Linked DNA regions of Homo sapiens. The protein of the gene in region 2 purifies or fractionates together with the protein of the main gene of each other region. This does not show direct contact. Each region holds a gene or a part of one and is shown on either strand. Other genes may lie near its edges. The genes, in order: TSEN2, MELTF, ZNF195, SLC25A13, IQSEC1, MADD and LOXL2.

Evidence for each region.
Region 1: the proteins of MELTF (region 2) and TSEN2 purify together in Homo sapiens (affinity purification with mass spectrometry; one large-scale study listed by BioGRID and IntAct). This does not show direct contact.
Region 3: the proteins of MELTF (region 2) and ZNF195 purify together in Homo sapiens (affinity purification with mass spectrometry; one large-scale study listed by BioGRID and IntAct). This does not show direct contact.
Region 4: the proteins of MELTF (region 2) and SLC25A13 purify together in Homo sapiens (affinity purification with mass spectrometry; one large-scale study listed by BioGRID and IntAct). This does not show direct contact.
Region 5: the proteins of MELTF (region 2) and IQSEC1 purify together in Homo sapiens (affinity purification with mass spectrometry; one large-scale study listed by BioGRID and IntAct). This does not show direct contact.
Region 6: the proteins of MELTF (region 2) and MADD purify together in Homo sapiens (affinity purification with mass spectrometry; one large-scale study listed by BioGRID and IntAct). This does not show direct contact.
Region 7: the proteins of MELTF (region 2) and LOXL2 purify together in Homo sapiens (affinity purification with mass spectrometry; one large-scale study listed by BioGRID and IntAct). This does not show direct contact.

What each region holds. Positions count from the first base shown.
Region 1 is NC_000003.12:12,531,819-12,534,158, reverse strand, and holds the end of TSEN2 (tRNA-splicing endonuclease subunit Sen2), read right to left. Parts: intron 1,498-2,340; coding exon 1,438-1,497; 3' UTR 501-1,437; downstream 1-500.
Region 2 is NC_000003.12:197,016,318-197,019,817, forward strand, and holds part of MELTF (melanotransferrin isoform 1 preproprotein), read right to left. Parts: intron 3,485-3,500; coding exon of another isoform or gene 3,288-3,484; exon of another isoform or gene 2,636-3,287; intron 974-2,635; coding exon 786-973; intron 53-785; coding exon 1-52. UniProt on the Homo sapiens protein: Involved in iron cellular uptake. Seems to be internalized and then recycled back to the cell membrane. Binds a single atom of iron per subunit. Could also bind zinc.
Region 3 is NC_000011.10:3,369,147-3,372,646, forward strand, and holds part of ZNF195 (zinc finger protein 195), read right to left. Parts: intron 2,558-3,500; coding exon 2,431-2,557; intron 1,925-2,430; coding exon 1,829-1,924; intron 1-1,828. UniProt on the Homo sapiens protein: May be involved in transcriptional regulation.
Region 4 is NC_000007.14:96,312,099-96,315,598, reverse strand, and holds part of SLC25A13 (electrogenic aspartate/glutamate antiporter SLC25A13, mitochondrial), read left to right. Parts: intron 1-3,500. UniProt on the Homo sapiens protein: Mitochondrial electrogenic aspartate/glutamate antiporter that favors efflux of aspartate and entry of glutamate and proton within the mitochondria as part of the malate-aspartate shuttle.
Region 5 is NC_000003.12:13,066,930-13,070,429, reverse strand, and holds part of IQSEC1 (IQ motif and SEC7 domain-containing protein 1), read left to right. Parts: intron 1-3,500. UniProt on the Homo sapiens protein: Guanine nucleotide exchange factor for ARF1 and ARF6. Guanine nucleotide exchange factor activity is enhanced by lipid binding. Accelerates GTP binding by ARFs of all three classes.
Region 6 is NC_000011.10:47,322,133-47,325,632, reverse strand, and holds part of MADD (MAP kinase-activating death domain protein), read right to left. Parts: intron 1,963-3,500; coding exon 1,798-1,962; intron 1,369-1,797; coding exon 1,296-1,368; intron 1,163-1,295; coding exon 1,056-1,162; intron 372-1,055; exon of another isoform or gene 300-371; intron 1-299. UniProt on the Homo sapiens protein: Guanyl-nucleotide exchange factor that regulates small GTPases of the Rab family. Converts GDP-bound inactive form of RAB27A and RAB27B to the GTP-bound active forms.
Region 7 is NC_000008.11:23,306,621-23,310,120, forward strand, and holds part of LOXL2 (lysyl oxidase homolog 2 precursor), read right to left. Parts: intron 3,292-3,500; coding exon 3,048-3,291; intron 1-3,047. UniProt on the Homo sapiens protein: Mediates the post-translational oxidative deamination of lysine residues on target proteins leading to the formation of deaminated lysine (allysine).

The DNA.
Region 1 (2,340 bases), about 180 Mb from region 2:
CGATGTGGTGGGTGGCCTTCCTTGTTAACCACCACCACCACCAAACAGGGCTCTATTTCTGACTGCATGCAATTTTTAGGATAGCGCCATTTCAGCTGAGATAGTGATCTCAGGTCCAGTCCTCCACGTGCATGACTGGTAGTGATGCACACCCGCCAACATCTCTGAGCTTCAAACACCCCTCTGTGGGTCCCTCCTCCTGAATTCACAAGGCTGCTGCAGGGATAAATACACAGGCATCTGCCGCATCTCAACTCCCACTCTCCAAATGTTTGCTATCACGGTTTGCAAAATATTTTACCCCATATTGGCTATCCAAATTAAATATAACAAACATGTAAGGGTTTGCAGCAATATCATTCAAGTAGTGTCTGGACCCATTAAGAGGATACAGCTCAGGCTACCACCTTAGCCTAAGTATTCTACCACCGAAGAGCAAGTATTCCCCCTTCCCATTTCCCCACCACCCACATTTTTTTTTTTTTTTTTTTTTTTTTTTGAGACAGGACCTTGCTCTATTGCTCAGGCTGGATTGCAGTGGCACAATCTCCGCTCACTGCAACCTCTTCCTCCTGGGCTCAAGCGATCCTCCTACCTTAGTCTCCTGAGCAGCTGGAATTACAGGCATGTGCTACAATGCTTGGATAATTTTTGTTAGTAGAGAGGAGGTTTCACCATGTTGCCCAAGCTGGTCTCCAACTCCTGGGCTCAAGCGATCCATGCGCCTTGGCCTCCCAAGGCCTCCCAAGTGCTGGGATTATAGGTATGGGCCACCATGCCCAGCCACCCATCTCCCTCCTCTTGCCACCAGATGCCCTGAGGCAACTTAAGTCTTCATGACTTTCTCACCAATTACAAAAAGGCTTTATTATATTTTGCCAAATGTTAATCGCTTTCATTATGTCTCCAAACATTATTTCACCACTCATTTTTATAACAAGTGCAGTGAAGATATGCTTATCGAATATTGTACAATACTGTTGTGTTCTGTAACACTCTTTCGGGAACAGCTTAGATGTAGGTAACAAGAGATGCCTGCGTATGAAAGTGCTTCATAAACTGTACTGTATAAATGTAAACTACTACCATTTTCAGGTAAAATCAGAGAATAAATGTCTCTTGTTGGAAGTGTCCTCTCAGGACTCCTCTAGTCCAATCTCCCCAGTGAGTGGATGAGGGAAAAGACTGACGCCAGAGGCAGGAGGCTCTGGATTGGAGAGTTAGAGGCCAACGCAAGTATAGAATCTGCAGTCCTAGCACAGGGATCTTTCTCCTCCCTTGTGTAATTTATCTTTAAAAACACTGATAGTTTTCTGGTGCTGGGAGCACCATGCCCTTTAAAACTTATGAATTAATGGACGATTACAACAAAAAGAACTTTTTACCTAGCCCTCAATAAATAGTTGTTGGTGAAATTAGAAATTTGAGGTTGAATTGTTAAAGATCGTCTTGGTCACTCCTCTCTCGTGAAGAAACCCATCGACTCAGAATCACCTCCTACAACCAATAAAAAAAAAGACCATTTCTTAAAACAGAAATGTAAGACCATTCTGACACCACAGCTGACACCACAGCTACATTTCACAAAGGGCGGTCTATATAATGATGATACTGTTCCCACCTTTAGAACAGAAACATCTGGAGAAAATGAATGTAACAATATAAACCTTACAAGCATACAGTATCTACTTTCACCAGGCAAAGATTTTAACAGCTAAGCTTGCCTCTGCTGTGGTATTCTACTAGCACATTTCAGAAACAGGTGGGCGGGATGAAAGCTAGCATTTTACATTAGAGCTAGGTCTGTGATGGCATTGCTGTAACGGGGCCAGCTACTGAGAAGGGAGAAATGAGGTTGATGAGCATTTTATGAGAAACTAGCCTAGTGGAGATAAGTGGGACCAACTGAAGGGAAGACGTGCTGGGGCCCTGGAGACCGACCAGCAGGTCTGCAGGGGCAGGGTGGTGTGAAAAGAAGACAGGACGACAACAAAGACATACTGGATGTTGGGAGGAGCCAATGGCAACGTTAAGGCTCTACACACAGAGGGAGGGAATGCAGAAACACGGACACACACTAGACAACTCGGCCAGACCAGAGAGAAACAAGCCAAGATGACAGGAGGCGCCTTGGTTCAATACAGAAGCCCAGAAGCAGGAACAAGTCAACAGGGACACCTCTGGTCTCTGGGAATGAGACCTGTGAGAAGTCCTGGCCTGGCCAGGGGGTCACAGGCCACCTGTAAGAGAGCAGTTTCAGCTGAGTGATGGGGACATCACAGGTAATAAAGTGGGGAATTAAGGAATAGAGGAAGTCAGCATAGATTTCGTGTCCAATGG
Region 2 (3,500 bases):
AGGCCTCAGAGCTGAACATCTGGAAGCTGCTGCCCTCGTGGCTGAACAGACGCTGTGTGTCAAGGGGTGTGGTACAGGGTGGTGAGGGTGCTGACAGGCCATATCCTTCCCTCCCACTTTGGCCCCTACCTCCTTCTTCCCCGACCTCAGACCAGGCACCCACCCTGAGGGCCAGGTGAGGCCTCCCTCTTCTGCGGCGCCTCCCCTGATCTGCGGCCTCCTTCCCCTGGGCCCTGTCAGTTCTGGGTCTACTCTGAGTTCATTTGGCCTCCTCACACTCAGCTGTTTGGACACATGGCTGTGGCCAGGCATGGGACGGTCCTGAGGACACGCCGTGGGGCTGGTGGTAGCAGCCTGGATAGGGCAAAACTAACTGAGCCTGGGGCACCAGCAGTCAGAAGTCTATTGCTGTCACAAGCGGCGGTTTTAGCCAAACCTTATTCGCCACATGTAATTAATGGTGTGCTTTGAAAGGCGCTGGTTTTGTTACTTGGTTTATTTGCTCATATGTTTTGGTTTTAGCTCTCAGAGACACAAGTCTCAGGAGCTTCTTCTGAGGGTGCCTGAATCCCTGGGTCCCCCTCCTCTGGGCCCCCCTCTCCTGGCCAGCCCTCCTTCTGGCCAGCCAGCATAGTCGGTTCCTCACTCTGACCTGGCCCGATGCTGGGGTCCGTCCCAAGGACAGTCTCTGGGTCCTGCCCCTCCTGGTCCCACCCTGCTGAGCGACCACAAGGCCCGGCACCATCTAGGAAGCTGTGCAGGTGGTTGGGGGACCCTGAGCCCACCTGGCCTTCGTTGAGCAGCCGGAAGATGAGGCCCCCATCTGTGTCGGCCCGGACCACCACGGCGTGAGCAGGCACCCGGGCCAGATGGCACTGCCTCCACTCGGTGACATCGGCCCGGCTACCATCCCGGCACAGCAGCTCGAAGTCCTGTGACAGCAGGGCCTGGCCCCAGGAGGGAAGCGTCTTCCCTGGGAAGCAGGAAGCCTGGGCTGAGCCAGCTCCGAAAGGGGTTGGGGCGGGTGGCGGGGAAGGCCCAGGAGAGGGAATCTGAGGGGTGGCTGGGTGTCATGGACATGAGAACCCAGCATTCAGAAGGTGGCAGAGCTTGGTGGCCGCACCCAACTCCAGGTACCTACACAGACTCTATCTCGTTACTCTCATTTTCTAGCTCTCACCAATTTCTATTGCTAAAGTGAATTGGAGGTATCTGACAGTAATACAATACTTATAAATAACTATTCAAGATAAAAAAAGTAAGAAAATAAGAAAGGCTGGCCGGGCGTGGTGGCTCACGCCTGTAATCCCAGCACTTTGGGAGGCCGAGGTGGGCGGATCACGAGGTCAGGAGATCAAGACCATCCTGGCTAACACGGTGAAACCCCATCTCTACTAAAAATACAAAAAATTAGCTGGGCGTGGTGGCGGGCGCCTGTAATCCCAGCTACTGGGGAGGCTGAGGCAGGAGAATGGTGTGAACCTGGGAGGCGGAGCTTGCAGTGAGCCGAGATCACGCCACTGCACTCCAGCCTGGGCGACAGAGCGAAACTCTGTCTCAAAAAAAAAGAAAGGCTTTGGGTGAGACAGATGAATGTACCAAGAGTCTAGGATGAGCTTGCGGCTGCCATGAGGCACTGCGTTTGGCTCTGAGCAGGGGGCAGGGGGCAGGGCTCCCGGAGCAGGGGCCACGGTGGAAACAAACCCCGAAGGAATCTACCCACCCCAGGACTAGAGAGGACGGGGGATCTCCCATAACTCCAACTATTCATATTGCGATGGATTTCTTTCAAGTCCTTTTTTCTATTTTATTTCCTGTCTTTTGACCTCACCCCCCCTTTTTCTTTTTGAGACGGAGTCTGGCCCTTTCGCCCAGGCTGGAGTGCAGTGGCACGATCTCGGCTCACTGCAACCTCCACCTTCCGGGTTCACGCCATTCTCCTGCCTCAGCCTCCCGAGTAGCTGGGACCACAGGTGCCCGCCACCACGCCCGGCTAATTTTTTGTATTTTTTTTTATTAGAGATGGGGTTTTACTGTGTTAGCCAGGATGGTCTTGATCTCCTGACCTCGTGATCCACCCACCTCGGCCTCCCAAAGTGCTGGGATTACAGGCGTGAGCCTCCACACCTGGCCTTTTTTCTCTTTTTGAGATGGAGTCTTACTCTGTCGCTCAGGCTGGAGTGCAGTGGCATGATCTTGGCTCACTGCAACCTCCGCCTCCCAGGTTCAAGTTATTCTTCTGCCTCAGCCTCCCGAGTAGCTCAGATTACAGGTGTGCACCAAGATGCCTGGCTAATTTTTGTATTTTTCCTAGAGATGGGGTTTCACCATGTTGGCCAGGCCGGTCTTGAACCCCTGACCTCATGATCTGCCAGCCTCGGCCTCCCAAAGTGCTGGGATTACAGGCGTGAGGCACCGTGCCCAGCCTCCTTTTGACCGCTTTTAACCTGGTTAAGGACATAGTTGACAGGCAATTTTGCATCCTATTTGGTAGAGTATTTTTCCACAGTATTGGAAACTTTCCATAAGTTCATTTGTTTCTCGATAGAAAAGAAAATTTGCAAGAGTAACTATTAACACCAAACAGGGATATTGAGAAGACGAATATTAAGGACTATAATTAAACCACAGATGGTCCCACATAACAATATTTTTATGACCTTAAGACAAGGAGGAAAAAAACCTCTACAAGGAAATAGGAAGAAAAAAGATAATTTGTATGGTCATGAAAGCTTTCACTGCAAAGCTATTTTAAAACAAAACCAAACACCCGCACCAGAGTGATCGTTTAGGAAAACTCCCTAAAGGTCATTGTTAATGGCCACATGGTAGTTTACAGCACTGTTAATGATTCAGTGTAGTCCTACCCCCGCTTCCCAACTTTCCTGTTTTTCGGCGGCTGCAAAACCTTTGGTTAGAGCTCTGGGGCATCATTTGCCTTCCCACAGACAAAGGCATCATTTAGGTGCTTCCATCAGCCACTCCCGCTTCTCCTCAGCCAAGAACAATGAAAGTCCTGTCACTTCCCTGCTTTAGACATTTATGCCACTTCTACCCCTTGGCTCTTACCAATCTTTCTGTATAAAGTCACTTAAAAAATGACTCCCTTAGATTGCCTCAGATTACCATCAACACTTTGAAAAAGCTGCCAGGTGCACGCCTGTCATCCCAGCTACTCAGGAGGCTGAGATGCGAGGATCAGTTGAGGCTGGGGGTTTGAGACCAGCCTGGGCAACATGGTGAGACCCCCATCTCAAAAAAAACCCCAAGTTTGAAAGAGCTGATTCTTAACCCAACATATCCCTACTCTTTGCCCGTTTTCCAAATTCTCCTTTGTCAGACTCGTCCTGGGGCCTGTGAACGGGAGCCCATTTCCAGGCTTGCCCAGCACTAGAGCGCATCGTCCTACGTGCTTCCTCGTGTGCAGGGCACTCGCCTTCTTCCTCCTCAGATCTGGTCCATGTTTGCCTTCGTGATGGACTTTCTGATTTAAAAGGCAA
Region 3 (3,500 bases), on a different chromosome or scaffold from region 2:
AGTAACATATTAGGGCTGTGCAAAAGTAATTGTGGTTTTTGCCTTCTAAATAGTAAGAAATACTCTTACTTTTGCGCCAATCTACTAACAATGTTGATAAGGATGTAAAGAAAAAACAATTCTGAACGCTCAGAGTTCTCAACTGGTAGAGTCATTATGAAAACCAGGGTGGGGGGGCGTTATTTAAAAGTTAGAAAAAGATAAACCTACCCTGCAACGCAGCAATCACACTTCTGTGTATATAATAACTGAAGGGAATAAAAGCAGCATCTTGAAGAATTATCTGCTCCCTCATGTTCACTGCAGCATTATTCACAATTGTCAAGATATAAAGACAAGCTAAACGTTTGCGGATGCTGAATGGATAAAGAAAATGTGATATAAATAGACAATAGAATATTACTCAGCCATAAAAAAGGAATGAAATCCTGTCATTCAACCACGTGGATGACCCTGAAGGACATCCTGCTAAATAAACTCAGCCAGGCCCCAAAGACAGAGACTGCACGTTCCCCCTCAGACGTGGAATCTGTCGTGGCTGAACTCACAGGAGCAGAGGACAATGGCAGTTGCCAGGGCCTGGAGTTGGGGAAAATGAGCTGTTGTTCAAAAGGTACAAACTTTCAGTTGTAAGATGAGTAAGTTTGGGGAATCTAATGAGTAGCTTCACGAATACTATTAATAATCTTTTGTATGCTTAAAGTTTGCCAACGGTAGACATTAACTGTTCTCACTACAAGAAAAGGTAATTACGTGAAGTGATAGATTTGTTCCTTGAAGTGATTGCACTAATTATTTCACAACGTATACACATATCAAATTATTACATTGTACACAATATATACACAATTTTTATTTCTAAAATAATCTGTTACACATATGCCCACATAGACACACTGTATATATGTGTGTGTATATATACATGAATGGATAAAGAAAATATGATTTAAATAGACAACAGAATATTACTCCAGCATAAAAAAGAATGAAATCCTATCATTTCAAAAGGATATGTTGATATATTATATATACACACATATATGATATATACACACACATATATACACACATATATACACACATATATACATATGCACACATACATACATATGAATGACAGAGTCCTGATAAGCCTCATACTAAAAAAGAAGAAATTATAAAATGATAATATTATAACTATTACAGTTGGGAGTTAGGGAATATAAAGTTTAAATGACCAACCTCAGCTCATACTAAAAAAAATAAAATAAAATGTTGAAGTAAAATAACATTAGATTATCTCATATTTGGGCAGATGCCTAGTGTTCGGAGAAAACTGCTGAGTATACATTTCTGTAGACTCCCATTTGAAACCTCTGTAGGATACGAAATCATAAAGCAGAAAGCATACAACATCTGTTTACGGGACTTCTGGGATTTCTGAACCAATCACCATCACCACGCCTCTCGCACACTTCAGACATGATGCAAAGGAAATCAAAAAACATTTAACAGAGTTCCTCAAAAACAGGCAGGTACAGGCATGTTCCCAAAAGCAGTGGCGGAGCACGCCATGAGACCACACAGGCCCTTACTCGTCAGGAGGAGGACTCTGATTTTTACTGTAACCTTTATAAAGGAAGATCACTAAACAGGAAGCAGAGTCTATACAAAATTTGAGAGAATGAGACAGAAGACGCTCCTAGGGTACAGCAAGAGAAAGACACCCAGGCTCTCAGAAACCATCTCCACTAGGGCAGAGCTTCTCAAACCACATTTTAAGGTCTGGCTTCCTCCTCGACCTCTGGACCTCTCACCTGGGTTACCTGCTTCGTTCATTCCCACCCACCTGGATGTCCGTCTGCTGCCTCCTGTCTCTTCACATTCCAGGGCTCTTTTCGTTGCTCCAGGCAGGTGATCAGGCCTGGCTTACAGACAGTGAGACCTGTTTTATTAGAAAAAAGTGACATTACTCTTGCTGAAATTCTCCAATTATCAACCTTGTACTGTGCTTAGTAGAGTGAACATTATATAAGATTCTAGAAAATTAATCCCAAAATTATGCTTCCTGACATCACCTTTAGAATATTCAGTAAGTATTTTAAATCTGTGGGTTCTTAGTTTCACCACTCAGTACTGCTGACATAAAAAATTGGTGGTGGAAATTTGACTTTAAGTTGTGGGCAACAATATTTCATGCCACTGAATTTCTGGAATTGTCACTAGAGTGAAAGATACAGATCAGCTGAAAAAAAAGGAAGGTTTATGTCAAGATGAACCACATTTTGAAGATTTTTTTTTTTTTTACATCAACTATTCCCCATGTTTTTCTTAAAAGCAGGGATCTGAAACTCATTCATGCAACGCAGAAACTCCCAAAAAACATTCCGCAGAGGAACGAAAGGAACTCTTTAGGGCATAGGAGGAACTACGTATTGAAGTTATCCTCACCAACGGAGAACAAGTTTCTGTAGTTCTCCAACATCACATCCCTGTACAAATTCTGCTGAGCGAGGTCCAGGCATTTCCACTCCTCCAGGGAGAATTCTATGGCCACATCCCTGAACGTCAACAGAGTCTGAAGAAGAAACAACAACAATAACAAATACTTGATTCGAGGTGAAATGAGCGAGTGAAGAGAACTGGTTCTGACTTACACAAGTGACTGAAATTATACAATAAGGTAATTCTTAGCAGAAGAATACTCTCTAACTCTGAGGAAAGAGAATTGCCTGAGAGCCACATAAGCAGTGTATATACAATACTTTTCTGGTTGATAACAAGTATAACATTAAGGGCATCAACAAAGGCATGTCCATTTTTGAGTGCTACATTTACGTCACATGAATAAGCTGTGTATATTTCGCAGGCAGAAAAGTCATGGTGAGTTAGAAGCTGCCTCTCCAATTTTCATGTGTCCAATAAACTAGTGTGCAGATTTTGCTTCAGGAAATCGGAGGTCAAGGCTGAGTTTCCGAATTTCTAACGCGCTCACCAGTGATGCCAGTCCTTTGGGCCCAAGGACAATATTTTGTCAAAAATCCTGTAAGTGGCAAGCTTGGGTTTATCCCAGTTTTTCTAAACCATAAAGAGAGATGAGATTCTTCATCTTCTAAAGCAAGGCATATGCAAAAAGAATCTAAGAAGCAAAACCTTTCAGATTAAATGTGATTATTTATGCACATTAATTAGTAAATCTCCTCAAGGTACTTAAAAGAGAAAAAAATAAACTCCACAATGGAAAATCTGTCAGGGAGCTCTTTAAACAACTGAATAAAACTAATATCAACTGTAATAGGACAGATTTTTATCACGTGCCAATGCACAGAGAAGGACATATTACTGGTGTGATATTGGCCAAAAGGTCAATTATAATCTGAATCAAATCATACCGAAACCTTAGTGTTATGCAAAGTTCAAGAGACAAATAAATATCTCCCAGGTTCTGACAAATATCTCCCAGGTTCTGACAAATATTTCCCAGGTCCTGACAAATATCTCCCAGGTTCTGACAAATAAAT
Region 4 (3,500 bases), on a different chromosome or scaffold from region 2:
GGAATTTATGTTAACACAATGATCTTTACTCTTTCCTTCCTCAGTCCTGTCCCCTTTTACCAGGAGAGTCCTAGAAATGGAGTCCCAGAAACATTTGTTATTGGTCCAAATTCCCATGAATGCCTTTGCTTTTGGCACTGCTCTAGGCCAGTGATTCCCTACATACTGAAGTCTTCTGGACTGGTATAAAAAACTGCTGATGCCTGGGTCTCCCTCCAGAGATCATGATTGAATTGGACTTGGGTGTGGCCTGAGCCTCAGGATTTTTGAAAGCTTGACAACCACTGTTATTTTGGTGCACATTGCTTCAAGAGACCTGCTGGCTCCTTCTTGGAGTAAGAATGGAATGCAGTGAGATTAAGTTAAAGTCCCTGGTGTGTCAGTTCAAAGGAGGGGTATGTAGGGGTTTCTCCAAATTTCTCTTCTTTCTTGACAGCTTTGTCTTAGTCCTGCCTGGTGTCTCCAGGGTGCTTAGGCATCAAGTTTATACAGTTTTGTGATAATCCTGGAATAGAGGTTTTAATCCCAAACTTGACTGAAAGCTCCATTTGTCTCCTGCAGAGTCTCAGTGGTTTTTTGTGATCAGAGAAGGTGCTGGAGGAGGGAAGCATTACAAAGAGCAAACCTGGTCTCAGAGCCCTCTCCTGGGCTAACCTCATCCAGGGCCATGTGGTGCCAGTGTTCCCTGGCTTAGGTCATATGGCTTCACAGCAAATAGAGGGTTGGAAAGGTGTGGGGAGAGTTGAAAGGTGATATGTAGCGTAAAAAAGTCAGGGAGCAGGTCTTTTTTGGATATTGAGTTCTTTTAGAAGATTGTCCGAGGAGCTCTGACTCCTCTGTGCTTTGGTCTCTTAGACCTTTAGTCCCATGACCAGTCTCTGCTTTTGATGAATTCTTAGAGGGAACCATTCCTCCCTTTGTTCTCCACTATGTGTGAGGATTATCTATTATGGCATTCCTGCTGAGCGCTTCCTCCTCTCTGGTTGGCATTTGCTGCCTCATAAACACCTACAGATTTCCTCATAAGACTCTGTGGGTTTGCCTTAGGGTGGACCTTGCAACAGAGGAATGTGTGACGCTGAGACATGTGTTGGTTCTGCTTGGAGGTAAGGAGGGGGATATGCCTTTGTGTAGTGATACAATTCCTTTAGCAAAGTATTTAACAGCTACTGAGCAAACTCTATTTTCATGGCCTGTTTAACCAGACAGACCCTCTAATTGGGTGAAATGAACTAAATTAAATGTCCTTCTCCTAAAAGTCACCAGTAACCTCAGTTCTAAACCTGTTGGCTTGTCCTCATTTCTGGCCTCACATGACCCTGTGTCCTACCCTTTCTTTCTCGCCATCTGCTTTCATGATGTCCCCTCTCATTATTGGCCTCTAGCATCTCATATTACCCCTTTATTCTCCTTTGCAGGCTTCTTCTTCTTCTTCCTTCTTCTTCGTCCTTCATCCTTTCTCCTCCTTCCTTCCTCCTTCTTCCTCCTCCTTCTCCTTCCTTCTTCTTTCTTCTTTCGTCTTCTTTCTTCCCAGCAAAGATATATTTTTATTTTAGTGTTTAGCAGCATGACATATGCATATAGAATGATAGTACACTTTACCCTAATCTTCAAAACAGAATGTACTAGTTTACCAATGAGGAATTTTGGCCAAAAATGTAGTGTTTTTCCCTTCCCTGTACAGGTCAGGTATATGTAGGTCCAGCACTAATGCTGCACCTTTTGAGAAGCATTACTTTAGCAAAAATCTAGAAATCTTTCACTTTTTCTGAATCTAACAAAGGGTCTTACTTTCTTTTTTTTTAAATGTACATTTTAAAAAATAATTTCAACTTTTATTTTAGATTCCGGAGGTACATGTACAGATTTGTTACCTGGATATATTGCATGATGCTGAGGCTTGGGGTACAGTTGACCCCATCACCCAGGTACTGAGCATAGTACCCAATAATTAGTTTTTCAACCCTTGTTCCCCTCCCTCCTCCCTCTAGTAGTCCCCAGTGTCTATTGTTGCCATCTTTATGTCCATGAGTACCCATTGTTTAGCTCCCACTTATAAGTGAGAACATGTGATATTTGGTTTTCTGTTCCTGCATTAATTCACTTAGGATCATAGCCTCCAGCTGCATCCATGTTGTTGCAAAGGACATGATTTTGTTCTTTTTATATCTGCAAGGTATTCCACGGTGGATATATACCACATTTTCTTTATGCAATTCACCATTGATGGGCACCTAGGTTGGTTTCCTGTCTTTGCTACTGTGAATAGTGCTGTGCCTTGTGGGCTTCTCTTCATTCTGCCTGGACACCTGGAAGGTTAGTGTCCCCCAAGGCTGTGCCTGAGATTGTCTCCTCCCTCCAGTTCCTGCCGCACTACCTGCCCCCTTAATGGGTATTGGCTCCTTAACACTCCTCAGCCTGGGTGGCTGTCTCAAGCTCTAGCCCTGCACTTTTAGCTGTTTAGTTTGAGCTGGAAGACTCAACTTGTCTGTCTCAAAGATATTTCAAACTCTGCTGACCTAGAACTCACCAGTTCTTATAACTGAATCCATCTTTTTGGTCATTCCTGACTTCATCCTGCAGCTTCACTTTCCTGATAAAGTTTCTAGTTAGTTCAATTAAGTACCTGTTATGGGCAGATAGGAGAGACACCATCAGCCTGAATTGGATGTGGCAAAAGAGGTGGATCAGTGAAACCCTTCTACGGCCATGGAGCATGTATGTCCTATCTTCTCTGTTCAAATTCAGGGCCTCTTTATTTTGTAGCTGTACCATTGCTGTAGCTCCCACTGATCCCCTTGCTTTTGATCTCATCCCTACACCTTCCTCTCCATTCTGTCCAGACTGCCAAAGGACTTTTCTAAGATTGGCTCTTGTTGCCATGATAATAGCACTACCGTGTTCATGGGTACAGTACTTAGCAGCTTTAAAAAGTGCATTCAAGGGCATAAGTGACGACGACTGTTTGTCAGTGCCTACACTGTGCTGGGATTCCAAAAACAGGTAAGCTACTAGATTTGTTTTCAAGAAGCTCAAAGTCTTCAGGGATTAATATAACCAGATAATATAAAGACCCAAGCTTCATTATTTGATCTTTATAATCATCTACAAGGTAGCAGGGAACGTGTTGATAACCTCATTTGTCAGATAAAGAAACCTAAGGCTCAAAAAGGTTATGCAAATAATAATAATAATATTAGCATATGTTTATATAACACTTGTAAAAGCCGGACACTGTTCCAAGCACTTTATATCTACTAATGCAATCTTCATAACAATCCTATGACATGTAAGTGCTCTCACCTTCATAATATACATCGAGAAACTCATTTGTACAGAGTAGTTAAGTTCTTTGAGGTACAGAGAGATTACATAACTTGCCCAAGATCACATGGCTTGTAAATAGGAGAGCTATGATTTCAACACAGGCAGCCTGGCTCCAGAGCCCAAGCACATAACCAGTGTGCTGCATTGCCCTCTTTAATTTATCTTGCTATGCA
Region 5 (3,500 bases), about 180 Mb from region 2:
ACTTTCCCAACAGTTGCACTGTAGCCACTATCAGAGCTGCCCAACTTGATTGCAAAGCGTTCTCATGCTTAGTTGCCTCATGGGGTCTCACCAACTGCTGTAAAATGTGATACTGTCGATCCCGTTTTACAGAAGAGGAAACTGAGGCTCAGAGAGGGGAAGGAACTTGACTGGGGTCACACAGCTGTTTCCTGCCGTACATTTGGCAGTGGTGTCCCTTCCCCAGCATGCCACATGTCAAATCGGGACAGACTTGCTCCAGCGGCCCTGTGCATGGCACAGCCAGGCTATCCTCAGCCTAGTGGAGCCCTGCCGGCGGGCCCCCACCCCCACCCCACTGTCCTCACTCCCTAGCCTCCATTTTCGCCACTTCCACTCTCTGGGCCCCTGGTGTGCACCCAAGGGAGCTTTATGGAATCGAGACTCTGTCCCGGTCAGGGCTCAGTCCATCGTGAAGGTGGCACACTGGATGGGATAAAGGATGACAACAAAAGCAGGAGAAGATTTCTTAACCCAATGGGGGAACATCAGGAGGCTTCCAAGAATCAGACCCTGAATCAAACTTGCTAACACCTGAGGTCATTGCTGTACTGGCAGCTTCATGAATGGTGTCTGAATGAAGGATGGCCCTCAATTCTGTAACTACAGCATCCTTTTCATCATCTCTGCAAGGGGCCCCTCTGTCCTCATGGGCATGTCACATCCTGTCACTTGAACACAGGAAGTGAGGCTGTGAGGAGTTTGTGGTGTGTGAGATGTGGGCTGCTTGGCCAGGCCAGTGGAGCACTCGCCTACCCATGCCTGTTCAATCATTCATTCACTGCCTGGAACTGTCCCGACCCCTCTCTTCCTTCTGTTTGGGGGACATGATGACCTGCCGGCCCCCGCAGGAGGCAGTGGTCTCCCTCTGGTGGGATGCCCTGACCTGCTGCTTGCAGTGGGGCCTTCATGAAGGAAGCGAAGCCCTGGTGGGTCTCCCCTAGACAGAAGAAGGGACACTGGTGGGACTGGGCCTGGAACATTCCACACACACACACACCTCCAAGAAACTTGTGCATTGAGCCTTCACCATTATCACCTTGGCTGGGTCAGTTCTGCAGGCACAGTTATCAGCATCTGCTGGACAGTGGGCCTGGGCTGGATGCCAGGGAAGAGCAGCCCCAGCCCACCGAGAGAGATGCAGGGAGGGAACCGGAGGCCCAGTCTTCACTCAAGCACGTGTGATGACCGGTAGCCTTTCTTGCCATGCAGTGATCACTATTAAAAATGGTTATTATGAATGACCCACACAGCACTGGGCTATTTTCCAAGAATGCTGTAGCATCTATCCACCCTTTACAGCCCCAGGAAGCCACTGGGCAGGTCCTGGTTATAACTCAGAAAGACTGGGATATGCAGCCAAGGCCGCATAACCAGGCCTGGGCCTTCACTTCCCTGCCTTCAGCTAGTGTTCATGGTGCACCTGCTGTATGTCCAGCTCAGTGCTGGGAACCACTGAGAGGGTGCTGCTCTCAGGGGATACTGCAGGGGAGAAGGACACAGAGAAATGAAGAAGATAGAGAGCCCAATGGGAATGGATTGAGTGAACTGTGTGGCCACTCAGGAAGTGAGGAGGGCTTCCTGGAGGAGGTGACCTTTGAACAGAAATCTAAATGATTAGGAGGAACTATCCAGGAGAAGAGTGGGGGCCCCGGGTGCAGGGGACAGCAAGTGCAGAGGCCCTGGTGAGGGCATGCTTGACAGGATTGGGCCACAGAGGGAGGATGGTGTTGCTGGAGCAGAGTGGACCAAGAAGAGAGGTAAAGGGGCTGGGGCTGTTCATGGAGGCCCTGGAGTAAAGAGTCACATCGTCATGCTGGAAGCTAAAGATATGAAGAAAAGACTGGGGGTTAAAGAGGTTGGGGAACTGCATTGGGGCCTCCCAACCATGAGGGGGTGTCATGAGCCTGGGGCCTGAAAATTCAGAGGCCTGGCCACTGCCTCTGCCCCTTTGCAAGGCCAGGGCCCAGGCCTGCTCCCCGTTGTATACCCAAAGCTGGCATGGCCTGGCATGATGTTGGGACTTAGAGACCCTGTCTGGGGTGAATTTTAGAGACTGAGAGGAACAGACTTTTCTGGTAGTTGCTGGACAGGCAGGGCAACAAGTAGCGTCTGCTTAGGCAAGCACCTACCTCTGACCCACCTGCCACCATCTTCCACCAAAGGATCCGTGAAGGACAGGTCCGACATCCACATCCTCCCTGGGCCTCAGAGGAAGCGTAAGGCCTGGATTGGCCCCAGCCCCGGGGCAGGACCCTGCTGGGCCTTGGTCAGCCCATGGTCAGCATCTTTTCCCAAGTGCCCCAAGCACAGGCACTGGGCCTAAGCCTCCTGCTCTATGTGGTGGGGCTGATACTCCCCTTCCAGGGTTTGCCTGCGGGCCAGCAAGCAGGCTGGGCCCCAAGCTCAACAAGTGTCACGCCATCCTTGTCCCTCCCTGGAGGCCCTTTGTTGAAGCCCCCCAAGGCCCCCTGTGCCCCTAAAGGACCTGGCACCATCTCCTCAGGGCCCTGGCCTGCCTCCTTGCACTGACTCACTTGGTCTTTAAGAATAACAACAAAAGTGCCTTATCTTGTTGAATCCCACAACTCTGGCAGGGTGGTTGTGTGCCATCCTGTTTTCCAGGGAAGTGCCTTGCTCAGGGTCACAGCCAGTGAGTCTGCCTGACTCCAGACCCTGCTCCTCCCCAGCCAGATCTGTGTGCCCTTGTGGGTGGGGCCAGTGGGCACCCAGTGCACAGAGATGGGATGAGGAAGGGAAGGAGGGTGGTCAGGGGGCCCAGGTGTTGGGGGACCTGACGCCTTACCCTGAGCAGGTTCCAGATCTCTTGGCCGCAAGGCTCTGTCCCTCCCCACCCCTTCCCCACTGCATGCACTACCTGGAATGTGTTGGTCACTGCCACTGTGGCATGGCTGCCCCCAGCCTGCTTGTCCTGGGTGCTGAGGGTACTTGTCCCACAGTGGCTGGGAGCCCCCCACCCAATGCCTGTGGACCAGACCAGTTTTGTCACCACCAGTGGGGGCTTAGGAGGCGTTGCTCCTGGGTGCTGGCTAAGCTGCTCCCAGGCTTACCTTAGAGCCTGCTGCTTTCCCCCAAAAGCCTACTGACGACACAGCCCCCGTCTGCCCTTCCCGCTCTTTCCAGCCTGTTGGATGGCTCCTGTTCTCTCAAATCTCACTCTTACCCCCAGGAGGCTCCCTGCAGGCAGAGTGGATGAAAATATCCTGCCCCTTGGTCTCTGAGGCCCTGGCCCACCTGGGGCCTTACAGAGCAGGACAAGGAGGCTCCACTCCAGCTCTGTCCCTGCCTCACTATGTGACCCTGGGCAGGCTGCTTGCCCTCTCTGGGCCTCTGACCTCATCTGGAAAGTTCCTGGTTATGCTGCGACACACAGGGGACTGGGAGTGGGAGGAGTGGTGTCTGCCAGGCACAGCAGCTCCAGGCATGCTGGCTCATTCACA
Region 6 (3,500 bases), on a different chromosome or scaffold from region 2:
TGGCTACTGCCCTAAGTCCTAAATTGAAAATATACTAAGGGGCTGCTGGCAGCCTGCGCAGCCATTTCCTGTTAAACCAAAGCTGCCCAGCTACGTTCCTGAAAGAGAGCTACAACGGCTAGCGGAGGGAGGGAGACAGCCACGTCAGTCAGGCATCCACCTCCCCTGAGGGTCTGCGGCCTGGCCAGGGTCTGTGGGGCTTCACACATTTGGGTCTGGCTCAGAGCCTCAGGGAGAGGAACCCGGACATCAGGGAAAGAGGAGGGAAGGCACTTGTGTGAGGAGTCAGAGCTGTGAACGGACCTGGGATGATGCGCTGGCCTCAGAAAGGAATTAGCTTAAGGAATGTCCACTGAGAGAAAAAGGTAACACTGTGTTAAAAGACCAAGAGAGAAAAAAAAAAGTCAGCTCCTATGGTGGAATTACAATGAGGGAAAGATGTATCCACAAGTGCTCCCCAATCAAAAGAAAGGGAATGGGGCCTGTGGAGCAGGGGACAGAGTGGGAACACTCAGAGGAAGGAAAAGAACAGGAAGAAGAATCCGCAGAAGAAAAAGGCAAATAAACACACTCCAGAGAGGACAGATACAAGCTACTTACACACAAGCACGCAGGCACGCACGCACGCACACGCAAGCTGCACGCACACCAGAAAGACACAAGGAGATCGGCCAGTCTAGACTCTCAAAGCAAAACCACCAAGCAGAAGCATATCCTGGGAATAGAGGAAGGCAGAGACACTGCAGGGGAAGGGCCAAGTGAGACGCTCCCACTCACACTGTGTGGAGTCCAACGGATGGGGCAGCGTGGCCACCTGGCCTCGCTCCTGCCCAGCCTCCCCCACGGGCTCCCTGGTGCACCTTCACAGCGCCAGGTGGTCGCCAACGTCACTGTGCCCTCCCCTGGGGTTTCTTTCCTGGGTCCAGCTGCTCCAGTTCTCCCTCTAGCTCCAGAGGGCCCTCTCTCATGCTTGCTGGGGAAGTACTGGGGGCTTGGACATTGGTCCTTCTTACAGATGGAACGACAGGGAGCCTCGTGCTGCCGCTCGCACCTACCTGATTGTGCATGAATTTGAGGTTGATCCCTTCCAGGGTCACCTGCAGCAGGCCACCCTCACCAGTCTTCAGGTCCTGCACAGGGAACTCGCCACCCAATTCAGGTCCTGTGGTGAGGGAGGGGGCTATCAGCTCACTGGTGAGGTGGGGAATCCCACCCCTGACTTCCCTGCCAGGCCCCTGACACTCAGAAGGACTGGTAGAAACAGGGAAGACACTCTCAGGAAAAACTCTCCTCACCGGGTTTGATGCTTTGCTGTCGGGCGGCAGCGCGCTCCATGCTGTCCTTCACACAGTAGTACAGCTCCCGACACTGTGGCACAGGGGGAGAGTGGTCCCATCATGAGGGCTGTCCAGGGTTCCCCACCCACTGCTCTATAATGGCCACTGAAGGCTGGAGGTTGAAGTGAGGGGTAAAATTTTAAGTAGTCCTCCTATTTTTCGGATGTCTTATTCATTGTTGAGGTTATGAATGATAGATCCGGAGCATATGAATAGTATGGCTTTAAAGAAGGCATGGGTACAGATGTGTAGGAATGCTAGATATGGTTGGTTAATACCGATTGTGACTACTATTAGGCCTAGTTGGCTTGACAGAGACAGCTTTAGGTACTCCACCCAACAGCTGGAGACAGAAGTGTGGCTCCAGATGTGTGTTTTGGAATTTTAACTTCCCAAAGAGAAATTCACTATTTGGTCTTCAATGCCTACTAGCCCCAACCCAAACACAGATCCTGCGTACCTTTTTAGTATAGAACTTGTTGAGCTGGGTCTCAGAGCCATTTCTACGCCACAAGCACAACACCTTCGTCTTGGGACAGTAGGTCATGTTGATGAGCTTCTCGTACCACCAGCGCTCATACACTGTTCCGATGTTACTACGCAACACCACACAGTCATCGCACACCTGGAGAAGTGCACAAAGCGGCTCAGTGGTTCCTGTCTCTGACAGCCTCTCCCTAGACTGTTTCCTACAGGGAAAGGTGGTCCTGGGGCATCCCCATGGTCAGGTTTTCTGCCTTACGCTCATGGTTTCCCTAGGTGAAGACACAAAACAGAACTACTGACATGCTGCCTGCTACAAGGATTGTTGGAAGAGATGGAGTCATTAGAAGGAACCGATGTATAAGGGAGGAGGCACAAATCAATCAGTTATTTATTACCTCTTTTTTTTTTTTTTGAGACAGGGTCTCACTTTGTACCCCAGGCTTGACTGCAGTGGCGCCATCTCAGCTCACTGCAGCCTCGACCAGCCAGGTTCTTCCTGCCTCAGCCCCCAAAGTAGCAGGGACTACAGGTGCACACCATCACATTGGCTATAATTTTTTTTTTTTTTTTTTGAGATGGAGTCCCACTCTGTTGCCCAGGCTGGAGTGCAGTGGTGCAATCTCGACTCACTGCAACCTCTGCCTTGTGGGTTAAAATGATTCTCCTGCCTCAGCCTCCCGAGTAGCTGAGATTACAGGCACACATCACCATGCTCAGCTAATTTTTGTATTTTTAGTAGAGACAGGGTTTCACCATGTTGGCCAGGCTGGTCTCGAACTCCTGACCTCAAGTGATACACCCGTCTTGGCCTCCCAAAGTGCTGGGATTACAGGCGTGAGCCACCGCGCCCGGCCCAGTTATTTATTACCTCTTATGTGCTCTACGGACTTAAAGTATTTGGAGGAGATCTCATGCCTCCATCTTACAAGCTCAGGAATCATCTTTGTTGACAAACACAAAGGTAGGAGATCATGACAGACTTAACCAAGGAGAAAAATGGAGCTGATGCACTTTCTAATCCTGGGTCTACCCTTTTTCTATAAAAATATTTTTAAAAATTAATTACACAAGTGACACATGAACAATGCTTATTACATAAAAATGATACAATACAGGATGATATAAATTAAAAAGCAAATATCTTTGACACCTTCTTGTTCAACATTCTCTTTCAGGTGAAGTTATCTGTTCTTCTTTTTGAGACGGATCTCGCTCTGTCGCCCAGGCTGGAGTGCAGTGGCGCAATCCCGTCTCACTGCAAGCTCCGCCTCCCAGGTTCACGCCATTCTCCTGCCTCAGCCTCTCGAGTAGCTGGGACTACAGGCACCCACCACCATGCCCGGCTAATTTTTTATATATTTTTTTAAGTAGAGACGGGGTTTCACCGTGTTAGCAAGGATAGTCTTGATCTCCTGACTTCATGATCCGCCCGCCTCGGCCTCCCAAAGTGCTGGGATTACAGACGTGAGCCACCATGCGCAGCCAGTTATCCGTTCTTAAGGCTTCAAATGTTACGGGAGACATTACAGCACAATGGTGAAGGGCACAGGTCTAAAGTCAGCCTGAGTTTAGATTCCAGCTCTGCCATTACTGAGCTGTGCCACCCTGAGCAAGTTCATCTGTGTCCACAATTCCTCACAGGTAAGATGGGGATAGTAACAGTAATAACTTCCTACA
Region 7 (3,500 bases), on a different chromosome or scaffold from region 2:
GGTGGAGTGAAAGGGAGTCTCTCCTCTTTGCAGCAATGCCATCCCTGACCCGGAGGACTGTCATCTGAGCTGGAGCCCACACGCCCTGCTTCTCCAACTCCTAGCTCCTCTCCTGGGATTCCCCCGAGGTGGGAGAGCCAAGCCCCTTGGCCTGTGGAGCCTGTTGTGCATCTGTGCCCCATGCTTTGTCCTGTCAGAGCGTGGCACATCGTGCCAGTTGAGCAGCGGTGGCCCCACAAGAGGCAGGAGAGAGAGGCATGGAGACCATCGGCCAGGGCACAGTGCACATGAGACAGAATAACTCCGGGGGCACTTTCCTCCAGGTCTGGTTTTCGAGGAAATTTCCAAGGGGGCCAATCTTTGTGTTTCAGCCAAGGGCTTTCAAAGAACAGAGCTCTCTTCCCCGAGGTAGCGTCAATTAAACTGGAAATGGCATTTTTTCCCATTCCCACTAATTTGAGCCAGGGTTCTCAAGCCTGGCTCCAGATGGCCTTCAGAGTGTCTGCAAATCTGCTGACATAGGCTATTAAACTTCTAGAAATATTTGTTTTGAGGAGAGGAAGGGCCAGCTCTCATCAGCTTCCAAAAGGAACCCAACAGATGTTTGAGGCCAGGATCCTGTTCCTCCCACAGCACCTGGAGAAGTCACCTGGAGCTCGAGGTACTCCTCTTAAGGTCCCTAGGATCTTATGGTCATTGTTTCTCAGCTGTGGACCAGGAGGGGGAGACCAGAAGGTACATGTGCTCAGCATGTCCTTCCTTCCCTCCCATCCCCTCCCAAGCCACTGACTAGAACATCTGTAAACAAAGAAATAAAATAGACCACAGGAAAAGTGGGGGAGCAGGGGGTTGGGGAGCAGGCAGGGAGCCAGGGTCTCCAGATCAGAAGAACATTTCCAGGATGTCACCATGTGCCTATTCTTAGAGGAGACCAAGTCCTTGGAGCGTAAGTGTATGGCACAGGGAGGTTCCTACCATGTAATCTGTGGGTGGGCTGCCATATGCAGGGCTGGGATGCAATTATCTTCTGCTTATAGACCCATAGGCAGCGTCAGCCCCCGCCGCCCAGGGCTTCCACCCACACGTTCCCCGAAGGGAGCCAAGCACCAAAACCGTCATGACTTTAACTCTACTGACTTACAACCTGAAGAAGACTAGCCTGCTTCTCTATAAAGACCACACCTTCTTGGGCTAATTAGGACGTTCAGAATATTCAATTGTTTGAATGGAAAATCAGCACCCCTGAATTCTACCATAGTCCTTTCTTGTGAGACTAGTGGAACAACTATCCCAAAACTGATTTGAATGTGACTAGGTCATCAGCTGCGATATGAAAAAAAAAAAAAAAAAAAAGCCAAAGATAGATTTCTGATGAAGAGTCAGCAGACAAAAAAGAAAGAGCATGTAGTTTGGAGTCAGACAGGCCCGAGCCGGGATTCCTGCTCTCTGCAACTCCTAGCATTATCTTGGGCAAGAGACAACTCCAAGCCTCTGTGTCCTTTTCTAGGAGAACGAAGGTTCCCTAGGCCTGACACTTAGAAGGGGCCAGGACATGTTAGTTCTGCCCATAACAGTGATGACCACATTCCGGAGCTGCAGCGGAGCCTCAACATCATCTAGACAACGGCTTCTCACACTGCAGTGTGCACACGGTCACCTGAGAATCCTGCCAAATGCAGATGCTGATGTGTCGGTCTGCCACGGGCCCTGGGATTGAGCAGGTCCCAGGCTCTCAGGTGGTGGCAGATACCTCTGGTCCAAGGACCTCACTTTGAGAAGCAGGGATGTGGTGCAAAGGCCAGGTTGTATAGATGGCCCATCCAAGTGTGGAGAAGGGCAATGACTAGGCCACGCCTGTAGCCCCTCGGGGGCTTCCTGCTTTATTTAGTGGTAGAGGCCTGTCTCCCTTCCTTTCCAAGGGTGTGCCTGCTTCTCTTCCCTCTACCCACCCAGTTCAGGTCTGAGCAAAAAAATCCCTGGACATACAGAGACAGCAGGCTCTGGATTAGATTAAGAGTCCAGGCAAAAAAGGGAAAACAAAGAAACAGAGGGAAGGTAAGAGGATGAGCAGATGGCTTGTGGTGGCTCTAGCCAGGTCTGGCTGTAGGATTTCACCCTGTTCTTCTGTCCTTGTCTGGGATTTGCAGCGCTGGGATCAGGTCCACAGACTGACAGAGCTGGAAGGGACAGGCGAGGTCCCAGGTGATGCCGCCCAGCTGACCTGACATCATGCAGCTCGCTAGAGGCACGGCTGCGTTTAGAGACCAGGTCTCAGGACTCTTGGGCCTAGACTTCAGTCTCCACACCCATTGTCTTCCTAGAGGTATTTAAAATACATACCAGTACGTGGAATATATATATATATATATATTTTTTTTTTTTGAGACAGAGCCTGGCTCTGTCGCCTATGCTGGAGTGTGGTGGCGTGATCTCAGCTCACAGCAACCTCCGCCTCCTGGGTTCACGCCATTCTCCTGCCTCAGCCTCCCAAGTAGCTGAGGCTATAGGCATCCACCACCATGCCCGGCTAATTTTCGTATTTTTAGTAGAGACGGGGTTTCACCGTGTTAGCCAGAATGGGCTTGATCTCCTGACCTCGTGATCCGCCCGCCTCGGCCTCCCAAAGTGCTGGGATTACAGGCGTGAGCCACCGCGCCAGGCTGGGAATATTTCTAAAGGAATTTAGAGTCCAGCAACTGCACAGCCTGGAGTACCTGGCAGCACACAAACCTGTGGACACACTTGGAAACCATGGGCTGAAGGTCAACGAGGAGGGTATGGGCGCTCAAAACAAAGTGTGTTTCCTGATGTTAGAAGCATTGGAGGCAGGAAGAAGGGTGGCAGGCCAGGGGAACTTGGAGTGGAGAATGGCTTCGGGAAATCTGACAGCCAGTGTGGCAGATGCAAGCCCCCCACTTAGGAGGATCCTATCCCCAGGCCATGCAGCCTCTTGGCTCTAAGTGACCCTGGCAACTCTCAACTCCCATCTGAGGCCTGCAGGATGTCCGCCGGGCAGCTTAGTGGGGAGGGTGGCCAGCCAGGCCTACCTGTGACAGTCGTGCCAGATCCACGCGTGGCGGCCGTTCTTGGGCCGGAAGTCGGACTGGCCATTGTTGTGGATCTGGGAGGAGAAGCGCAGGAGCCGGCGGTAGCCCGTGGTGGGGTCGGTCTGCGCGGCTGAGGCCGAGAGGCAGTTCTCCTCCATGGCACACTGCAGCATGAACATGGGCCGGTCCTCCAGGTAGGTGGTCTGCTGCACCATCTCCGCATTGAGGACCAGGTCAGGGGCGGCTGCGGAGGATGGCATGCTGGTCAACAAGGCAAGAGACCCCTCCCCAGGGCTTCTACTTCTGATTCTTGAGCTGGGACAAACCCCCTCTCCTGCCTACCGCCACCTTCTGGAATGACTCAAGGGCTCCTCAAGGTTACCTTCTTGTTTAGCAAGACCCTGAATTCCTCTTTTCCTCTGCTGTGAGTCCTCTTTGACAACTCTTCAGTTA